Homo sapiens: one gene and its partner. The protein of the gene in region 2 interacts with the protein of the main gene of each other region in a pairwise test. Each region holds a gene or a part of one and is shown on either strand. Other genes may lie near its edges.

Region 1 (3,726 bases), on a different chromosome or scaffold from region 2:
ACGCCTGTAATCCCAACACTTTGGGAGGCCGAGGCGGCGGATCACCTGAGGTCAGGAGTTCGAGACCAGCCTGGCCAACATGGAGAAACCCCGTCTCTACTGAAAATACAAAATTAGCCAGTTGTGGTGGCACATGCCTGTAATTCCTGCTACTGGGGAGGCTGAGACAGAAGAATCACTTGAACCAGGGAGGCGGAGGTTGCAGTGAGCCAAGATCGCATCATTGCATTTCAGCCTGGACAACAAGAGCGAAACTCCATCAAATAAATAAACACTAATAGCCAGACATGGTGGCTCCACCTGTAATCCCAGCATTTGGGGAGGCTAAAGCAAGAGGATTGCTTGAGCCCAGGAGTTAATGACCAGCCTGGGCAATATAGGGAGAACCCCGTCTCTTTAGAAAAAAAACAAAAATTAGCTGGGTGTGGTGGCATGTACCATTGGTCTCAGCTACGCAGGAGGCTGAGGTGGGAAGATCGCTTGGGCATGGGAGGTCGAGGCTGCAGTGAGCCATGATCACTGCACTCCAGCCTGGGTGACAAAGCAAAACTCTGTCTCAAAAAAAAAAAAAAAAAAAAAGTCACTCTCATTCAACCACTTTTACTGCACACTAACATTGGGTGGTTGGATGGAATGGGAGACAGAAAGAAGCATGTGGTCTCAGGCCTCACCTGCATCTCCAGCGTATGAAATAGAAATCCGGAGATACACTGGTTGACGCGTCACGGAGGTCAGCCCTGTTCCCTTAGTCCCCAGGGCACCCCACAAATGAGAGGGTTCTATGAGATGTACTTTGAAAACCACTAACTTAGGGCAAGAGGGGCCAGGAGGCATCATCTGAAAAAGATTTGGAAAAAGGGGAAATCTGCCTGTGCCGGGTTAATTCTGGCCCTGACCCAGCCTTCTCCTCTTGCCCCTGGGATCCTCCTTGGAGAAGCAGAGGCAGCATTTTTTTTTTAACCATCTGTCTCCAAAGTGGGGTCATCCTGATTTAGGGACACAAAATTAGGTAATGTCTGACCTTTGGGCTTAGCCTGGACCATATCCTTTTCAGCCCAGTACCTGAGGCCTCAAGAAGGAACTCAACTCCCAGCACCAGGTCACAACCACCACCTGGTGTTGGAAGGGGATCACCACACTCCTTGGCTGTGGTGTCTGCCCCAGGCAGGGAAAGTAGGCAGTGGGATTCAATAAATGTATCAAGCAACAGCGAGCACCTTCCTGCTCCGTGACTGTTCTTGGCCCCTCTAGCAGTCCTCAGATCTTTAGATCGGCCCTCGCAGGGTCAGCAGAACAGGCAGCCGTGAAGGTGAGGGGCATGGAGGAATCTGTTGCCTGGCTGAAGGGCCCTCAGATTAACTACTGTGCCCCCAATGATCTCCTAGGAGCTTTGCCTGACAAGGGGGATCTGATGCACGACCCAGCAATGGATGAAGAGCTGGAACGGCTGTAAGTGTCAAGTGGGAGGATACTGCCCCCTTGTGGGGGCCAGACGGGTCGGACACGGCTGTGCCCCATCTGGGGCCAACACCACTTGTCTGTAACATCCCACATCTGCCAGGGAAGGGTCTGGGGGCCAGTGGAGGCCTGAGGTGTCCCTCCCTCTGAGTCCTTTGGGGGCTGCAGCCCAGGGGTTTACCCTAGTGTTAAGAGTGGGCATGGAGGCCCTGCTCTCTGTACAGGAGGCCTCTCGCTGCCCTCCAGGCTTCTTCCCTTCTTCAGGCTGGCCCAGGTCCCAGGCCTGGTCAACTCGGTCACAGCCAGTCCAGAGGCCAGTTGCCTGCCTTCCCGGACCCCTCCCCGGGTTGGCTCTCCCTGGAGACCTCTCCATCATTCCCGAAAAGTGGATGGAGAGAGTGATGGCTCCACTGAAGAGACAGACGAGTCGGAGACTTGAGGAGTCCAAAGGGTCCTGCCCACAGCGCCCTGTACCTGCTCCCACCCAGCCCTTGGTGTGCCCACCCAGCCTCCTCTCCAGCACCTTGCTGTGCTGCCCTCTGCTGCTGACAAGGTGAATAACAGCCCCAAGACCAGCCAGAGGGGCTCTGATGATCAGCCCAGCCAGTGGCCCCGGAAGGTGAATGGCCTGCTCTCCCTGGCCCTATCAGCCTGTGAACTTCACTTAGGCCCCAAGCTGACAGACTGTGCTGAGGCCACCTTGTCACGCCGTAGCCTGTTAGTCCTCCTAACCTCTTAAGAGCAGTCTCTTCTGAGCCAGCCTCTGCGGGTCCCCCAATAAGGTTCATCTCCTCACAGCAACTCCATTAAGGGGGAGAACCCGAATAGCCACGCAGGGCCTTGCACCATCAAGGGTGACACCTGCGACGCAAGTACCAGGAGGACATAACCGCTGTGGCCTGTTGGAGAACAGCCAGTAGCCTTGGTAATATGAAGGGTGGGCCAGAAGATGATTTCACTTGCAAAAACTGCTTCAAGTCTTGACCCCTTTGTGTCTAATAGCTAAACAAACATGTGAAACGAATAAAAAGTCCCTCATGTCTGGTAACTGGTGAGTCTAAAGCTCCTAGGCTGAGGGGAGAAGGGAGAGGGGGAGTTTGGGTTTTCGGTGCTTTTCTGGTAGGACTAGGAGGTAGGCCAGTGGCCCACTCAGACCTGGGGACCTGCCTCAGACAACGAGCAGAGGGGCCTAGCTTCGCACAAGAGCAACCTTCCAGAGGAAAAGTGCTCACAGCTGGAACGGCCTTCAGGAAACAGGTTCAGAGGGTTCAAGGCCAGGTTCCCATAACTTTAAAGACCGTGGCCATAAAGGGTTAATACTGCACAGCCTTCCAGCCAGGGTTTCAGTCAACATTTGCCAAGCACCTGCTTGGGGTTAGAACAGTGGGATGCAGCTGTGAAAGACAGACAGACACAGCCTGGGGCAGACACATCCCAGCCAAGACTGGAGGCAGGTAAGGACGAGTGTCTTCAACTTCTTTGGATTGAGGGCTGAAGGGGCGGGGTCCCCCAGAAAGCAAAACCCACCCAGAAGCCCAAGCAGAACAGGACTGCCTCCTCTGAAGGTGGATGTCACCACTACTAGGCATACACATTTCCTTGGGCTCATCCCTACCCAGAACGGATCATTACAGGAACTGCCTCCCAAACCCCTGCAGAGCTGAGGCCAAGACTAGGCATTCCAGCCCCGAAGCTGCTCCAGGATGCAGTGGCTCATTGCCTGTAATCCCAGCACTTTGGGAGGCCAAGGTGGGCCAACTGCTTGAGCCCAGGAGTTCAGGACCACCCTGGGAAACATAGTAGGACCCTATCTCTACAAAATAACCTTAGCCAGGCATGGTAGCTTGCACCTGTAGTCCCAGCTACTTGGGAGACCCGAGGTAGATCACTTGAACCCAGGAGGTTGAGGCTGCAGTGAGCCATGATCGTGCCACTGCACTCCCGTCTGAGTGACTGACAGAATGAGACCATCTTAAAAAAAAAAAAAAAAAAAAGCTCAGGCTGCGTGATGAGCTCTGTAGGCCCACAATGATGCACAGCCCATAAGAGACATGGTTCTCAAATCCTGGTGTCCTCAGAATCACAGGAAAGCCTACTGACGATGCAAATTACCAAGCTCCAGAGAGTCTAACTCTATCAACTTGGGATGGAGTCCAGAAATTCCAGATGATCCCAAAGCTGAATGAGTCCCAAACCTACACTCTGCAAATCCCTGGCTTACAGCCCCCTGGCTCCCTCTGCCCATCCTTTCTAATCATCCACTTCCCA
Region 2 (5,190 bases):
AGCGTGCCAGCAGCCCCTAAGTGAAGGCCTGGGTACAGAGGATTCCAGTAAGAGCAAATCCAAAAGTAAGAGTCTGAGTTCTCACCGTCTCCAGCGTAGAACTTCAGTGTCATGTACTTTTGTGGTATTCTTCCCATTTTACGAAAGCACAAGCATTGCGTTTCCCTCCCTTGGCCAGAGTATTCCTCTCTTGCTCTTGCCTCTGTTCATTTCACCATTATCCTGTTGTCTTTCTTAGCCTTCTGCCTCTCCTCCAGACACACCAGTCTTTTTGAGAGAGGGTCTTGTCTCTGTCGCCCAGGATGGAGTGCAGTGGCGTAATCTCGGCTCACTGCAACCTCTGCCTCCCAGGTTCAAGGAATTCTCGTGCCTCAGCCTCCTGAGCAGCTGGGATTACAGGTGCCCGCCACCACTTCTGGCTAATTTTTATATTTTTAGTAGAGATGGGGTTTCTCCATGTTGGTCAGGCTGGTCTCGAACTCCCGACCTCAGGTGATCTGCCTGCCTCGGCCTTCCAAAGTGCTGGAATTACAGATGTGAGCCACCATGCCCAGGCCAGACACACCATTCTGTAATGTGATTACATTGCACATAAGGAACTTTCGCCCTCAATTCTTGGGGGCAAAGATGTCATCTTTCTTACGGGGGTGCCTTGCATATACTTTTTTGTCTCTGGGTTTTGGCCCAAGTTAGCACTTTTATTTCTTCTTCTTTTTCCTCCTTCTTCCTTCTTTCTTCTTTCCTTCCTTCTTCTAACTTCTTTCTTTCTTCCTCCTCCTCCTCCCTCTTCTCCTCCTCCTCCTTCTTCCTTCCCCTGCTCCCCTTCCCTCCTTCCTTCTTCTTCTTTCTCCTCCTCCTCCCCCTCACTTTGTCATCCAGGCTGGAGTGCAGTGGTGCCATCTCAGCTCACTGCAGCCTCAACCTCCCAGATTCAAGCAATCCTCCTGCCTCAGCCCCTCAAAGAGCTGGGACTACAGGTGTGCAGCACCATGCATGGCTAATTTTTGTATTTTTAGTAGAGACTGGGTTTTGACATGTTTCCCAGGCTGGTCTCGAACTCCTGAGCTCAAGCTATCCACCCACCTCTGCCTCCCAAAGTGCTAGGATTACAGGTGTAAGCCACCTGTGCCCAGCCTATTTCATCTTACTGTATACTTCCGGCAACTAATGGCAACCCCTTTCCTAAGTATAGGTTGCCAGTTAGAAGTTCTACAGAAACTTGAAAAACGGAGAATTGTGTTGGCATCAGCAAACCAAGAATCAAAATGTTCAGTAGAGAAATGAAAGTTCTGATAAGTTGCAGTAGGTGTCTTTGTTTTTATTCTAAGAACAGGCTAATGTCATGGTTCCTTCTTTAGTCCCATATAGAAATCATCCGTGGCCATGCAGCCTTCACGAGTGATCCCAAGCCCACAATAGAGGTCAGTGGGAAAAAGTACACCGCCCCACACATCCTGATCGCCACAGGTGGTATGCCCTCCACCCCTCATGAGAGCCAGATCCCCGGTGAGTCATACAACAGGTACTCATTAACAGCAGTCAGGAGTTTACTGTTGCTTTCAACCTGAAAAGCCATGCCAGGGGATCTGCCTAAACCAGTTCTCTCTTTGGAGCCAGGCCATGGGAGAAGGTCTCTGCAGAACCTAACTCCAGTTGGCTTAGTGGTAGCTAGTGATGCAGTCGCCCAGGCTGGAGTGCAGTGGCACGATCTTGGCTCACTGCTACCTCCGCCTCCTGGGTTCAAGTGATTCTCCTGCCTCAGCCTCCCAAGTAGCTGGGACTACAGGCATGCCACCACCACACTTGGCTAGTTTTGGTATTTTTAGTAGAGATGGGGTTTCATCATATTGGCCAGGCTGGTCTTGAACTCTTGACCTCAGGTGATCCACCCACCTTGGCCTCCCAAAGTGCTGGGATTGCAGGCCACCGTGCCCAGCCAAGAGATTTCATTTGGCCCCAGGCTCAGACATATTGCAGGTAACAGAGGGAGAGAAATCAATGAAAGCCTCATTCTTTCCTTCTTAGCTTAGCATACATTGTTTCCAGCCTCAGTTTGTCAGACGGGTTGTTATTTACAAGACACGTGATAATTTATTGTTTTGTTCAAGAGAGAGAAATCTTGTAAGGATGTAGCTTGAGTAGCTAAGTGAGCTTTTATATGCATATTTTTCTCTTTTAAGTAGAGACTTATAGAAGATTAAAGCTGTAAGGAATCTCAGAGATGGTCATAACTTCTTTTGCATTTTATTTTATTATTTATTTATTTATTTATTTATTTAGAGACAGAGTCTGGCTCTGTCACCCAGGCTGGAGTGCAGTGGCACAACCTCAGCTCACTGCAACCTCCACCTCCTGGGTTCAAGCGATTTTCCTGCCTCAGACTCCCGAGTAGCTGGGATTACAGGTGTCCGCCACCACGCCCAGCTAATTATGTACTTTAGTAGAGACAGAGTTTCACCATGTTGGTCACATGGGCCCACCTCGGCCTCCCAAAGTGCTGGGATTACAGGCGTGAGCCACTGTGCCCGGCCTATTATTTTATTTTATATTATTTTATTTTTTTGAGACAGGGTCTTGCTCTGTTGTCCAGGCTGGAGTGCAGTGGTGTGATCACAGCTCACTAAGGCCTTGACCAGGACGTTTAGATGGGAGATGGCTCAAGCGATATCTTTCTTTTTTCCCAGCTAGATTATAAGGACTTTGTGGATGGTGAACATAGTTTATACATCTTTTGAATTTTCCATGGATTAGCTTCATAAGATCCATTATCAAGGTGAATTTTTTTTTTTTTTTTTTTTTTTTTTGTGAGACAGATTCTTGCTCTGCCACCCAGGCTGGAGTGCAGTGGCGCAATCTCCACTCACTGGAACCTCTGCCTCCCGGGTTTAAGCAATTCTCCTGCCTCAGCCTCCTTAGTAGCTGGTACTACAGGCACATACCACCATGTCCAGCTAATTTTTTTTGTATTTTTAGTGGAGGTGGGGTTTTGCCACGTTGTCCAGGCCAGTCTCAAACTCCTGACCTCAGTTGATCTGCCCACCTTGGCCTCCCAAAGTGCTGGGATTACAGGTGTGAGCCACTGCACCCGGCCAAAATGCAACATATATATTTTTTTGTTTGTTTGTTTGTTCAGAGACAGAGTTTTGCTTTTGTCACCCAGGCTGGAGTGCAATGGGAGGATCTTGGCTCACTGCAACCTCTGCCTCCTGTGTTCAAGCAATTCTCCTGCCCCAGCCTCCTGAGTAGCAGGGATTACAGGCATGCGCCACCACACTCAGCTAATTTTTGTATTTTTAGTAGAGACGGGGTTTCACCATGTTGGCCAGGCTAGTCTCGAACATTTGACCTCAGGCGATCTGCCTGTCTTAGTCTCCCAAAGTGCTGGGATTATAGGTGTGAGCCACTGCACCTGGCCTAATATATTTAATAACTGATGAGAAATGAGGGTAGGGGGGCTACAGAGAGAAGGAATCAGCAGTTGACAACTGAAGGCTTTGTCTGCATTATTGGGAGCAGGTGGTAACTGAAGTGGTAAACTTGAGAGAGATATGGGTTGGAAGATAAAATTAAGGTTCAGTTCTAAATAGACTAAGTTTGAAGCCAATGTAAAATTGTGTGGCGAGATAGTTAGAAACATGGAACTGCAACCTGGGGAGAAGGTCAAACCTGGAAGAATGCATCTGGAAGTCCTGCAAGATAGGACCTGCTATCCTATATCCAAAGGTTTCAATCTCCTTTTCACTACATGTATATTTCACTATATAGGTTGTACCTCTTGTAATTCAATGTGTACACCATATAGGTTGAAACCTTTGAAAGAATAAGCAGAGAGGAAAGGGCCACGTCGATTTTTTTTTTTTTTTTTTTTTTTTTTTGGAGACAAAATCTTGCTCTGTTCCCAGGCTGGAGTGCAGTGGCACGATCTCGGCTCACTGCAACCTCCACCTCCCAGGTTCAAGTGATTCTCCTGCCTCAGCCTCCCAAGTAGCTGGGACTATAGGTGCGTGCCACCATGCCCAGCTAATTTTTGTATTTTTAGTAGAGACAGGGTTTCACCACGTTGGCCAGGCCACATAGATTTTGAACTACATAGAAATTTGTCTTTTCAGGCAGGAACGGTGTCTCACACCTGTAATGAGCTGAGCCCCAGGGTTCCTACCTGCCCTTGGGGTGGGAGGGTGAACAGATCCAACAGAGTCTGTTCATGACCACTGAGATCTTCATTCTTCAGAGAAATGTAAAAGTTATTTAGCCATCATGGCTTCTGTTTCTAGAGAGAAAATAAAAATGTTAACTCAGGGAGGATTTGGTTGGCAGCTTTCCAAGCAGAGACTTTAACAAAACTTGTCAAAACGGAGACTATGTTGGCTGTGAAAGTGTTTGGTTTTTGGCATAAAATGTTGTGATTACTTTGCAAGAGAAAGAGCAGTCTTGTGTGATCTATGTTGCCTTTTTCTACATAGGTGCCAGCTTAGGAATAACCAGCGATGGATTTTTTCAGCTGGAAGAATTGCCCGGGTAAGCCAACCTGACCTGACCTCAGTGACTCATTCTTCCTTACTGTCTCCTGGTAACTTTTCTTCGTCTTCTCCTCCCAAGCATTTAATGTAGGCCTTTCCTGAATTCCCTCCTCTTACAGCTTCTCTTTTCATGACCTTGTATATCTCATTCCTAGAACTCCTCAGTAGATCCCTCAAATCTTTCATGCTTTCAATCAGAGGCCAAAGTCAAATGCAGGGTAATTTGAAGACTGCATAGCAAAGTCCTAAAACTGTCTTCTTTCTTCAACTTAATACAGCATCAATTAAGAATGTGTCTAAAGTAGCTTGTATTTTAGAATAGAATAGCTGGTTTTGGCCAGATGTGGTGGCTCATGGCTGTAATCCTAGCACTTTGGGAGGCTGAAGCGGGCAGATCACCTGAGGTCAGGAGCTCGAGACCAGCCTGGCCAACATGGTGAAACCCTGTCTCTACTAAAACTATGGAAATTAGCTGGGTGTGGTGGTGTGGGCCTGTAGTCTCAGCTACTCGGGAAGCTGAGGCAGGAGAATCACTTGAATTCTCAAGGCGGAGTTGCAGTGAGACAAGATCACACCAAGAAAGAAAGAAAGAGAGAGAGAGTGCCACCACGCCCCGCTAATTTTGTATTTTTAGTAGAGGTGGGTTTTCTCCATGTTGGTCAGGCTGGTC

Evidence for each region. The genes of interacting proteins can lie anywhere in the genome.
Region 1: the proteins of GSR (region 2) and CSTPP1 interact in a two-hybrid assay, tested with the Homo sapiens proteins (one large-scale study listed by BioGRID and IntAct).

What each region holds. Positions count from the first base shown.
Region 1 is NC_000011.10:47,159,742-47,163,467, forward strand, and holds the end of CSTPP1 (centriolar satellite-associated tubulin polyglutamylase complex regulator 1), read left to right. Parts: intron 1-1,385; coding exon 1,386-1,449; coding exon of another isoform or gene 1,450-1,453; exon of another isoform or gene 1,454-1,704; coding exon of another isoform or gene 1,705-1,722; coding exon 1,723-1,897; 3' UTR 1,898-2,506; downstream 2,507-3,726. UniProt on the Homo sapiens protein: Regulator of the tubulin polyglutamylase complex (TPGC) that controls cytoskeletal organization, nuclear shape, and cilium disassembly by balancing microtubule and actin assembly.
Region 2 is NC_000008.11:30,699,409-30,704,598, reverse strand, and holds part of GSR (glutathione reductase, mitochondrial isoform 1 precursor), read left to right. Parts: intron 1-1,358; coding exon 1,359-1,506; intron 1,507-4,463; coding exon 4,464-4,518; intron 4,519-5,190. UniProt on the Homo sapiens protein: Catalyzes the reduction of glutathione disulfide (GSSG) to reduced glutathione (GSH). Constitutes the major mechanism to maintain a high GSH:GSSG ratio in the cytosol.